Linked DNA regions of Homo sapiens: region 2 is linked to region 1. The links come from fine-mapping of genetic effects on gene expression. A gene starts in region 1. The other region holds a variant in brackets. All regions are shown on one strand. Distances are from middle to middle.

Region 1 (5,383 bases):
GATTTCAGAGTTTTGGTTCCGACAAGCTGCACCATTCCAACTGCCCCCTGGTGAGCTATCCGGGAGTGATAGCACGTTTCCTGCGTTGCTGGGATAGGACTCTAAATTTTAAAAACTGCCACCAAGTGAAATTAATTTTTCTAAGTACCAAGTTCAGGTTTGGGTGGCCTGGGGTGACTCTCTCATCTGGTTTATTGTTATAATCAAGCCCTACAAGCTTTTTTTTTTTTTTTCCAAAGTACGCGCCCACACGCACATAAACAATAAAGTTATATTTCTACAGGACTTGCACTGTTGGGAGAAGGCTGCACAGGCCCCAGATGTGCCTTTCGCGGAGATTATACACACTTGACACACATCCCGGAAGAGTGCAGAAGGCAGCACCTGGACCCACGGGAAAGTCCCCCACCCTTGTGCGTGGATTCCCAAGGCCTTTCTCTTGGGAAGCCAGCAAAGAAAAGGCAGCTGCTCCAGTGACTGGAGGTCGACCCGAGGCAGAGCTTTGTCCTCCCCGGGCCTCCCGCAGCCCCCAGTCCTGCGCCAGAGCTCGACTCCCGGGAGCCGCCCCGCGCCCCTTCCTAGGCACCAGGGCGGAGAAGGCGGCCCGCCCTGCGCCCGCCGCCGCCGCCCAGCCGCGGCTCTGGTTTGCGGCTGGGCAGGTGAACTCTTCTTCCCGCAGCTGGATGAATAATGAATGGAGCCGGGAGGGGAAGCCGAGAGCCAGGCGCTGTGGATTAAGCCGTCTTCCTCCCAGCCCGCCGGCTCCCTTCCCCCTCCCTAAGCACTGGCGGGGCGACTTCCCTGGCTCCTCGGAGCAGGAGGGAGCTCACAGCGCCTCGCGTCCCCAGGCCCGGCATCCCATGACCCCAAACTCTTGATTTACTTATTGACTCATTTATTTGGCTGAGCCCGGATTGCATTTGATATCATGGCGACAACTAGTCTCACGGCTTCCTTTTCTCTCCTGCGGCTCCGGGGTTTTACAGGTAGCTTGGAGCCTCGGAGGAAAACCAGGAGGCGGAGGGTGAAGTAAAAGAATGAACCTAAACTCTTATTAACCACTTTTGTTCTGGGAAGCAGGCTGGTTCGTGCTTCTCCGTACTGGAGAGATTTCTTTCAGTGCAACTGAACTGCCCACGACCAGAACACGCTCCAACCAGTTAGTTATAAAATCCTAACTGGACTTTAGGGGGAGACTAACTGAGGTAAGGAGGGCGGGAGAGCGATGGGGCTTTAAGATGAAAGACTGTATGTTTCTTAGGAACAGAAGTATTTTTAAACAGGTAAGAGCAATTGTTCGCTCCTCACCTGTGCTCCATGCAGTTGCTTTCCCTTCGGGGAAAGGTAGGTGGTGGAAAGAAAAAGGATCAGTTTCAGAGATGTCACCTCCATCGGCCACCCACCCACCCAAAAGCACTTAGGGCAGAGAGGGAGGCCGTTTCGGGGGTGTAATCCGAATACAAAACAATCAGGAGTAGGAATCTTATCAGAAAAAGCCTATTCCAGTTTCACTTCCACCTCACCCTTCCCAGAAAAACTTCCACCTCACCGAAATACCATAAAACCTGCTGAGATTTTTAAACTGCACGATCACTCACACATACACACACACACGCACACGCACACACACACACACACGCGGCACCGCTCTCTCACCTTCGGAATGATGAGGCAATACTGCAAATTCCGCCAACGCTAGGGCCAGCCCGAGCCACACTTTGAGGACACCCATCGCCGCCTCGGCACCCACGATGGAGGAGCCCAGCCTTCAGCATCCAAGAAGCGGCTCCGCCAAAACGCTGGCTCCGGCGCTTGGAACCCGGGCGCACTGAAGGTGGGGGACCGCGGGCCTTTACCTCCGGGAAAAAGAGATGGACGGGCGGAGAGCGACACTCATCAGCCCGGAGGCGCCGGAGCGGGCTGGGGTTCAATTCACTCGCTGCTCAGGCAGAGAGCGCGCCGAGTTCCCCCGCAAGGCAGGACGCCAACGTGAGCTTTGGGAGAATAAGAGGAGGCAGAGCACAGTTCTCCGCGTCAAAATCTCGCCGGAAAGTTGCTGGTCACTGGCCGATGGGATCTTCCAGCATTTCCCTCGGGCTAGACCCTTCCGATCCCGGGTCCCCGACAGTGGAAATCCTGGCTCTGGTTTGTCCGAAGCAGCTTTTTAAAGTTCGCTTGGCACCATACGTCGGCGTTGCGTCGGCACCGCGGGTCGCCGGGAGCCCCGAAAGACCCACCCACACCCACTCCTTGGTCGAGCCACCCGGCTCGGCAGACCTCATCTGCCGGGGTCCGCTCGCTGGAAACTGTGCAGCGCTGAGGGCAGCTCCGGGGACTCGCCCGCCCTGCAGCCGCACCGCACCACACCGCCTCAGGCTGCGCTCCCTGAAGCAGACTGTTCGGAAGCTTCAGAGGAAAGACTGGGGGGCGCTGCTGCTACTTTCTCGTCCCCGCCCCTCGCCTGGGTGAGGAGGGCTGCGGGGACGCGGCTTGCTGCACACCAACACCCACCTCCGCGCTGAACACCCCGGAGGAGGTCTGCAGGGTAGAGGTGCAATGATTACGGGAGTGGAAGAAGAGCCATAATTTTAATTGCACGGAGGAAAAAGCTAGCGAGGCTGGAAAAGACCCCCAAACTCAAGGCCACTCTGGCGAGAGAGCCTGGAAACGCCCAAAATACGCCGGGTCTGGACCCCGTGTTTAAAGGACACACGTTCAGCCTTCCTCTAGTCTCCCTTGCCTCCTTCCTCTCTGCTTTGCTCGGTGTGAAAATGGACCCAGAGACTCGGAGCTTTGGCGAAATTCCAGAGAGTCACGTGGGGAAAGGGAGAAGCGAGGAGGGAGGTGAGGGGAGGCCGGGAGAGCAACCTGATCCCTTTATTCATTCTGCTGGAGTTCAGATTGGCTTTGTCTGGGGAGGAATCAAAAGTGCTCATACCGGGGACGGAGGGGGTGGAGATAGGTTGCACAGTTCTTGCTCAGGCACACCGGAAGGCAGATGAACCGTGTCCACATCCCTTGTTAGGGGAGGAACCGATTCGGCGGGCTGGGGGAGCGTGTGCCCACATCAAAGGCCCTGGGGCTACCTCCCACCCCCACAGCCCGCCACTCCTGCTGAACTAAGTGCGTCCGGGGGACCTGATTGATCCTTCTTCCTCGCTCTGGGACCCTCAGGCTGTTGCATCCTGGCTTTTACCAGCAGCCCGGGAAGATCTTGGTGTGTGTGTCCTAGGCGGAGCCTGAGAGCAAATGCACCTTTCCCTTTCCCTAGGAGACTCTGTCAGTGGAACACAACGCGGTCTGGGAGCTGTGGGTCCAGCTGCGCCCCCAGATGCCAATGGCTGGGAAAGTAACATCAGGACACGGCCGACTGGGGCGCGCACTTGAAGAGCAGAGGCCTTGATTCCCCGCCAGGACTGACTGACGGCAGCTATTTTTATAGGACCGAATAAAAATAGCTGGTCCACGTTTAATCGTTTTATAAGGGAACAGTTGCATCAGAGAGATGCTGACTGGGTTCTGATTGGCCCAGAGAAGAAACGTCTCGGGTCCCTCAATTGAGTCGGGATGGGCGAAACTGTTGGAGGGGAAGCAGTTGCATGAGCTGTGCTGGCGGGGGTCCCACTTGTTTCCAGTCTTCACGAACACCATGACGCGGGCCCACGTTCTAACGTGCACTGACGCCACTTGGAACAATTCACTTTTCCGAATAACTGGAATAACTTGAAACTGGCAGGTCCCTGTCAGTGTTACTATTCAGCCAGAACAAAGGAGAACCTCTGACAACCTGGCTCTGAATCTTAAGTATTTGGAGGACCCAGGGTTTGCACATTTCGCCCTCAGTCTCTCTGTTGGGCTGTGGTCATTCTAGGGACAGAGGTTGTATCATCTTTGTATAATTGAAGCACATAGTAGGTGCTCTTTAAACATTTGTTGAAATAATGGATTAAGTGCCTGAGAGCAGCGGCCATATCAAGGGGAGCTGCGGGCCTTAACCTCCTCCCAAAAAAAGACCCCTCCCTTTTTATTTAGAAAGTAGGGCCTGTGCGGTGGCTCACGCCTGTAATCCCAGCACTTTGGGAGGCCAAGGCAGGCAGATCACGACGTCAGGAGTTCGAGACCAGCCTGGCCAACATGGTGAAACCCCATTTCCACTAAAAATACAAAAATTAGCCACGTGTGGTGGCACATGCCTTTAATCCCAGGTACTCTGAAGGCTGAGGCACGAGAATCACTTGAACCCGGGAGGCAGAGGTTGCAGTGAGCAGAGATCTCACCACTGCACTCCAGCCTGGGTGACACAGCGAGACTCTGTCTCAAAAATAAAGGTCGGGCGGGGCGGGGGGGTGGAGGACATCTTCTCAATCCATGTAAAGTGATGTGCAAATTCAAACTCAGCTTCCAACACACTCTGACAACCAGACGGTCACCCTTAAACCCCCTCCTAATTTTGCAGCTGCTACTGAATGGGAGTAACTTAAACCGTTTGTTCTCTCAAAAATCAACAATTTGATTTTATTTTAAAAATCAAGCTGGGTGCAGTGGGGTGCACCTGTAGTCTCAGCTACTCCAGAGGCTGAGGCGGGAGGATCACTTGAGCTTGGAAGTTGGAGGCCATGGTCCACCCTGATTACGCCTATAAATAATCACTGCACTCCAAAAATCATACAATTATGGCACAGGTCTCAATAAGATATCTGTTATACTTGCTAATTGCAAATATGCTACTTTTCAAAAAGGAAAAGCAATAAATAAAGGGAGAATAGCACTACCAAGTTACCCTGAATTAATCATATGCTGTATTTATTGGATTTATATATAACATCCCCCCTTGACCACCAGTCCACCACAGGGGCACATGCTGGCCCACTCACATAGTCCTCCCTCTGCCCTAAGTAGTCAAGGGAGAAGGCAGCCTGAGTCCTTGCCCTAAGATCACTTGGAAGAGCAAAGGGTCAACCAATATTTCTGTAATATTAGGCATATCTAACACCTATGTTCACTTCAACTGAAATGTTGGAAAAAGAGATTATATAAACCTAACATATTTCATTATGATGAAAATTTAGTAAGCATGTTTATGGAGATGCACCTAATCATAACTAGCTTATCTCTATAAGTTAACCTCCACAAATGACAGCTTCATGCTTCCTCATAGGAAGTTGGCAATTCACTAGCCAGAGATATTTGGGTCTATATCTTCAGTCCTCTTTAGTTACAAGTCCAGATTCCACAACTTTTGTTAATATGTTCCACAATATCTCCTTGGATCAGCCCTGCTGTCATCTCTTCACAACTCCCTGTCCTTGTTGCTGCCCATTTTGGGGAATTTATTTATCAACTCCTGCTGTAAACGATAATAATAACAATGATAACACATATT
Region 2 (5,383 bases), 430 kb before region 1:
TAGTAGGATATGAAACCAGAAGACTGGACTTGGATAGAGCAGACTTGGATTTTAATTCCAGCTTCATCACTTTCTCTCTGTGTAATCCTACTCAAATTATTCAAACTTGGTTTCACAAGTTAAAGGTCTGTTGCAAGGATTAGGGATAATATGTAAGATCTTTCTACCCTAGAATGTTCACACTGAATGGACTCAACAAAAGTTCGTTATTACTAGGAAGAAAGATAACCAGAAGAAGTAAGTACTGAATGCTATGCTGAGTTACTGAAATAGGTTTTGGGATTTCTTTCTCTGGGATAAGTTATTGATTAAACACATATTGCTGTAGCTTCTCTGAAAGAAAAAGAAAAGCTGTAGCTTTTCTGAAAGAAAATTTTTGCTTAACATATCAGTTTCCTAAGTTGACAAACCCAATGCTCATCAATAAAATACTGAAAAATATTTAAATATAATTTTGTGTGTTGATCAGTGAGGACTCTATATGTTACTGGAGTCTTGTTGGTAAGAGTGATAAATGCCAGGTGTGTCAGGAAGAAAAGAAATCAACATGTAATAAAATTTACTGTGTGCCAGGTATTACAGCAGGCATTTTCACATATTTTATCTAATTTAATCCTCACAACAATCTTGTAAGGTAGTTATTTTCATTATTTATAGATGAGCAAAATGAGGCTTAGTAACCTTAAGCTTCTGGCCTAAGGCCAAAGACCTAGGAAGTGGTGGGGCTAGGATTATATTTCAGGACTTCAACTTTGTATTCACTTTCCACTTCATCAGAGGGAAATTAATGGTCATTTCATGCAAAAGAATAAGAAACAATTTCAAGAATAAAACGTATAGCTGAATTTTCTTCTTTCTGTTTTATCTTCCTCTTTACTAAGAAATAAAATTGCCACTGATTCTACTTCTACACCAATTAAAACCATGTAGTATATAATGCAAGGAGGATGAACTTGGGGTCAAAAGTCCTAGAATGCATGCTGGTTCCTCTAGATACTAGACATTGGGTGACCTATTTCCTCTGATTCTCAGTTTCCTTATCCACTAAATAGAAACAGAAGAAAGAGCACGGGGTTATGAGCAAGTGAGATAAGGCTTAATGGATTGCTTTGTAAACTTGGAAGTAACATGCAACATGAGATAATATAAGTGTCATAATCTTGTTCATGGTGTAAAAGTTACCGTTTTGTGAATCACAAACCTAAATGTAAAACTTAAGGCTATAAAACTTCTGTAGGAAAATAGGAGAACATCTTTGTTACCTTGGGTTAGGCAAAGATTTCTTAGATACAACACTAAAAATATGATCCATAATAGAAAAATGATAAATGAGGCTGCTTCAAAATGAAAAATGATTACTCTTAGGATGTTTGTTTACAGAACAAAAAGACAAAAAACAGACTTGGATAAAATATTTGCAAAATATAAATCTCTGTCCAGAATCTACAACAATGCAATACAAGTAGGAAAACAACGCAATTTAAACACCAAAACCTTGAACAACCCAAATGTCATTCAATAGGTGAGTAAACAAATGGTGGTAAATCCATACAATGAAAAGCTAATCTCAATAAATGGAATGAACTACTCACATATGCAATAACATGAATGAGTCTCAAATGCATTTTCTAGTGAAAGAAACCAGATGCAAAATCATAGATATTATATGATTCCATTTTTATGAAATTTTGGAAAAGGCACAACTTTAGGGCCAGAAAACAGATTAGTGGTTTTCAGGGCTGGTGACTAAGGAGACACAGACGACAAAGGCACATGAGATAATTTTGCAGAGTGTTGGAACTGTTCAACATCTTGATTGTGGTAGTGAGCATATCACTGTATACATTTGTCAAAACTCATAGAACTGTACACTAAGGACGATGGACTTTCATTTATGCAAGTTGCACCTTCATAAACCTGGCTCTAAAACAAATTACTATCATTTTGGATGCATGCAAGTATGTGTATGTTTGTTGTATGTGTGTGTGTGTGTATCACACATACATAATTTTATATATATATATATAGAGAGAGAGAGAGAGTTTTTTTTTTCTCCTGAAGGATAAACACACAAAAAACTGGTTAAAATTGTTGTCTCCAGTGAGGAGAACTGGGAGACTGGGAGATAGGGGTAGAAAGAAGATTTAATTTTCATAGTATACGCTTTTTGCCATTTGAATTGTTTACTACTATATACATGAAATAAATGATTTAAGAATAAATAAAAACATCAAAGATTATCCGACTTGGCTTCTTGCTCCTCTTTTGAGGACTTCTCAGCTGCTAGGAGTTTAATCATGGGCTCTATGGCCAATCTCTGGGAATGCTAATGAGGGTCCTGCTGCTTTAGGTGGAAGGTTTCACTTGATCTTCTCCACCAAACCCTAGTATCCAAACAGTGGATTCTGAAGTTCTGACAATTCTAATTTCGTCAATTCTTCTGAGAAGTAACCATCCTTTCCTGTTTTTCCTCATGCTACTTAGGTTACATCTTCAGCAGTGACTGATATTTTCTTCATATACCTGCCTCTATTCATCCCTGCACATCACCTACAATACTGCCAATATTCGCTTTCTAAAATAAAAAAGCACATCACTCCTCTGCTTATAAGCATCCACTGCTACCCTTTGCTTATAGAGTCCTTAGGCTGGATCACAATGCCTCTCAGAACTTGACTCCAATCTGTCTTTCCATTCCATTCTTCTATTCACCCCCTCCCATGCTCAAAGCAAAAGTAAGGGTCTGTTCCCCAAATGTGGATCTTTCAACACATTATACATTGTATTTACTATATGTCTCCACTTGAAATAGGTTTTCCTTTATTATGCATTAGATAGACTCCTATCACACCTGAAGACTCTGCTTAAATATAATCTCCTTGGTGAAATCTATAATTTCCCCCACTTGTAGTTCCTGTTCAGTTCCCTCTGCTCCCATAGTGCTGGATGTATAGTACTATTAGGTCATTTATCATGATTTATTCCAATTTCTCTCTTTAAGGGTCTGATTC[C/A]ACAGGGAGACACTGAGCTTCTTGAGGACAGGGCCCAAGGCTTATACATCTCTTTGTGTCTGGCAGAGTACCGGAGACATCAATGGTTCTCTCTCACATCTACATACTCTGCTATGTAAAAGTGCAAATGCTCACGTATACACATCTACACACACATATTTCTTGAATGAAAATGTGAATGAGTTCCAATGTCACATATGTGGACGTTAAAGAAAAAATAGAAATATATTTGGACCTACCAGCTGGCATCCCCAATCTCTTACCATCTTGGAATGTGTCATTAATTGCAATGACTGCCTGGAAGGGTTTGGTCAGTTCGGCTCCTTGTGCTGAGCTGAGGAAAACCACAAATGTCTCCAGTCCTTCAATTACCGGATACTGAGTGTCATCCAAGATAGTCAAGGTGCAATACTAGAAGAGAAACCAAAGCAAACTTGACAGAGGACCCACCATCTAACACCCATTTACCTTGACTAGGGCAAAGGTCACAACTTGCCTGTCTTTGGTGGTTTTAAAGTAAGATTTTCTAATCCATAACATGATGATCTCTTTATTACATGCCACTCGGAGTTTGTTTTTAGATGTTTATATCAAATGAGTATAGTTTATATCCTGAATCTGTAAGGCTGGATATTTGATGCTAAAAATGTCACTAGGAGAGTTTTTAGAAGATCCCCTCCTAAGTTAACTCTCTTGTTTATGTATGTGTGTTTTTAAAGAAAGGAAAGATAGGAATATCGCCAGGGGAGTTTAGAGAGCTTGGGAAGCAAACTAAAGACAACATTCACAAACCGACCTGTCAACTTTGTGGAGTCTCGACTGCTGTAAACGCACCTGTTCAATGACACCAGGCCCAAATTCCACCTTCCGAGAGCTGGGAACGTAGTCAACTCCTGGTGTGGCAGAAGCTGGGTCTGAGGGCCGCGTTGCACACCAGACAGATGCGAAAGTAGAGAGGTCAGTACCATGGCGGATAACTGGAATCTTTACTGTGCCTGAATTAAGATTCATAGAGATTTTAATGGTCAACTTTGAGCCAGAAAATCAGCGAGGTTTTCAGAATGATGTTCTCCCTCACTGCAATAGTGGCAGCTTTTAGCCCTTTGAGCTTTTCTAATCTAGCTTCAGTGATGCTCCTATGGCCCATCTGAGGTGAAGGCCTAGAGGTGTCACTACCTGTCTTTTCACTGACACTAGGATCAAGAGGAGACCTAGAGAAGGGCTTCATGGAGATGGTGCTGGAGAGAGCCCTTAGGGGAGAAGGCTGTTGTGGCTTCACAAGGGAGACTGCTCACAGGAGAACAATGCACTTAAGGAGAGAAGGGTCTATTGCAAAACATCTCAAGCCTATTTAGGGAGAAGAAACTTAGAGCCTGGGGCCTCAGGGATGTGTCAGAAAATAGTCAATTAAGGAGGACCCAGCTAGGGGACTCTATGGAGCCTGAAGCTGAATGTTTCTAATTAAATGTTCCTAACTGAGTTGATTTCTCTGTTTTACCCAAGCACATGTCATGACTTAAACCGCATGTGCTTATTACTCATCTTAGGAATGAAGCTCATCTTCCTGTCCACTGTGACATCATGCTTTGTAGTGTCCTAAGGATATTTAGCTATTTTCACAATCAAGGGCAGAGAAAAGCTTCATGAAAACCCTACAATTTTCAATCACCACATTTTCTAGCCAACATGCTGTGAGATGCAATGTAGTTATGGCTGGGCATTTGCTGTATGGGAAAAGAAACATGCTATAGTAGAAAGGTCTGGCTTTGAATCTAGCCTTGCCATTTTATTAGCTGCTTAATCATTGATGACTGACTTAACCTATCCAGGCCTCCATTTGCTCTTTTATATAATGTTCTCTCTTCCATAGAATATTAAGTGAGAATGCATGGAACATGCACGGTATGGTGCCCGGCATTCGGTAAGTGCTCAAAAATACCTGTTCCCAGTGCTCCTCCAAATCCCTTCATAGATGTGAAAGGCCTTGATCTGGCCCAGATCAGGAGACACTCAGCACAGCTGTTGCCCCTCTGCCAGCAGTATATCTGCCTGCAGCATACATAAGACTTCAAGACCTTTGTGGAGCCACAAGTGGGAAAGGAGCCTGAGTCTCTGAAATACCATGTGAAAGTGACCTGCCCACTGATCGCTTTGGGCTCTTACATGAATGAGAAAGTTTCACTGTATGAAGACACTGAAACTTTGGAGAGTGTTCAGGAGCTAGCAGTACACTAAATACTTCACTTCCATCCTCAATATATCACATTCTCCCCTTTCACAAGCCCAGATGCTCAGTGCCAGGCCCTCCCTCTGGACCACAGAGGTCAGCCCATGAAGCTCTAGGCTCTATGCCACAGCCCTGCCTGCCATCA

Which allele goes with the higher level. Positions count from the first base shown, and alleles are read on the strand shown. Sizes are in standard deviations (SD) of each study's normalised expression.
For the expression in fibroblasts of the gene that starts at base 2,419 in region 1, allele C in region 2 goes with a higher level than allele A (small effect, 0.24 SD a copy in GTEx).

The links. PIP is the estimated chance that this variant, and not a neighbour inherited with it, causes the effect. A credible set is the group of variants that fine-mapping cannot tell apart.
Region 2: its variant is the best candidate, but not a certain one, in a credible set for the expression of FRAS1 in fibroblasts (GTEx, PIP 0.84).

What each region holds. Positions count from the first base shown.
Region 1 is chr4:78,054,359-78,059,741 of GRCh38, reverse strand. FRAS1 (Fraser extracellular matrix complex subunit 1) reads right to left here and starts at 2,419. Exons shown (of 74, transcript NM_025074.7): 1 at 1,657-2,419. The coding sequence starts at 1,732. RefSeq lists an enhancer at 2,862-3,833.
Region 2 is chr4:78,480,427-78,485,809 of GRCh38, reverse strand. It overlaps FRAS1 (Fraser extracellular matrix complex subunit 1), which reads right to left. Exons shown (of 74, transcript NM_025074.7): 57 at 3,846-4,006; 58 at 3,275-3,422. Among named protein-coding and RNA genes, the nearest start is that of ANXA3, 69 kb to the left of the region's middle. RefSeq lists an enhancer at 3,515-4,714. The variant C/A (reference allele first, on the strand shown) is at 3,012.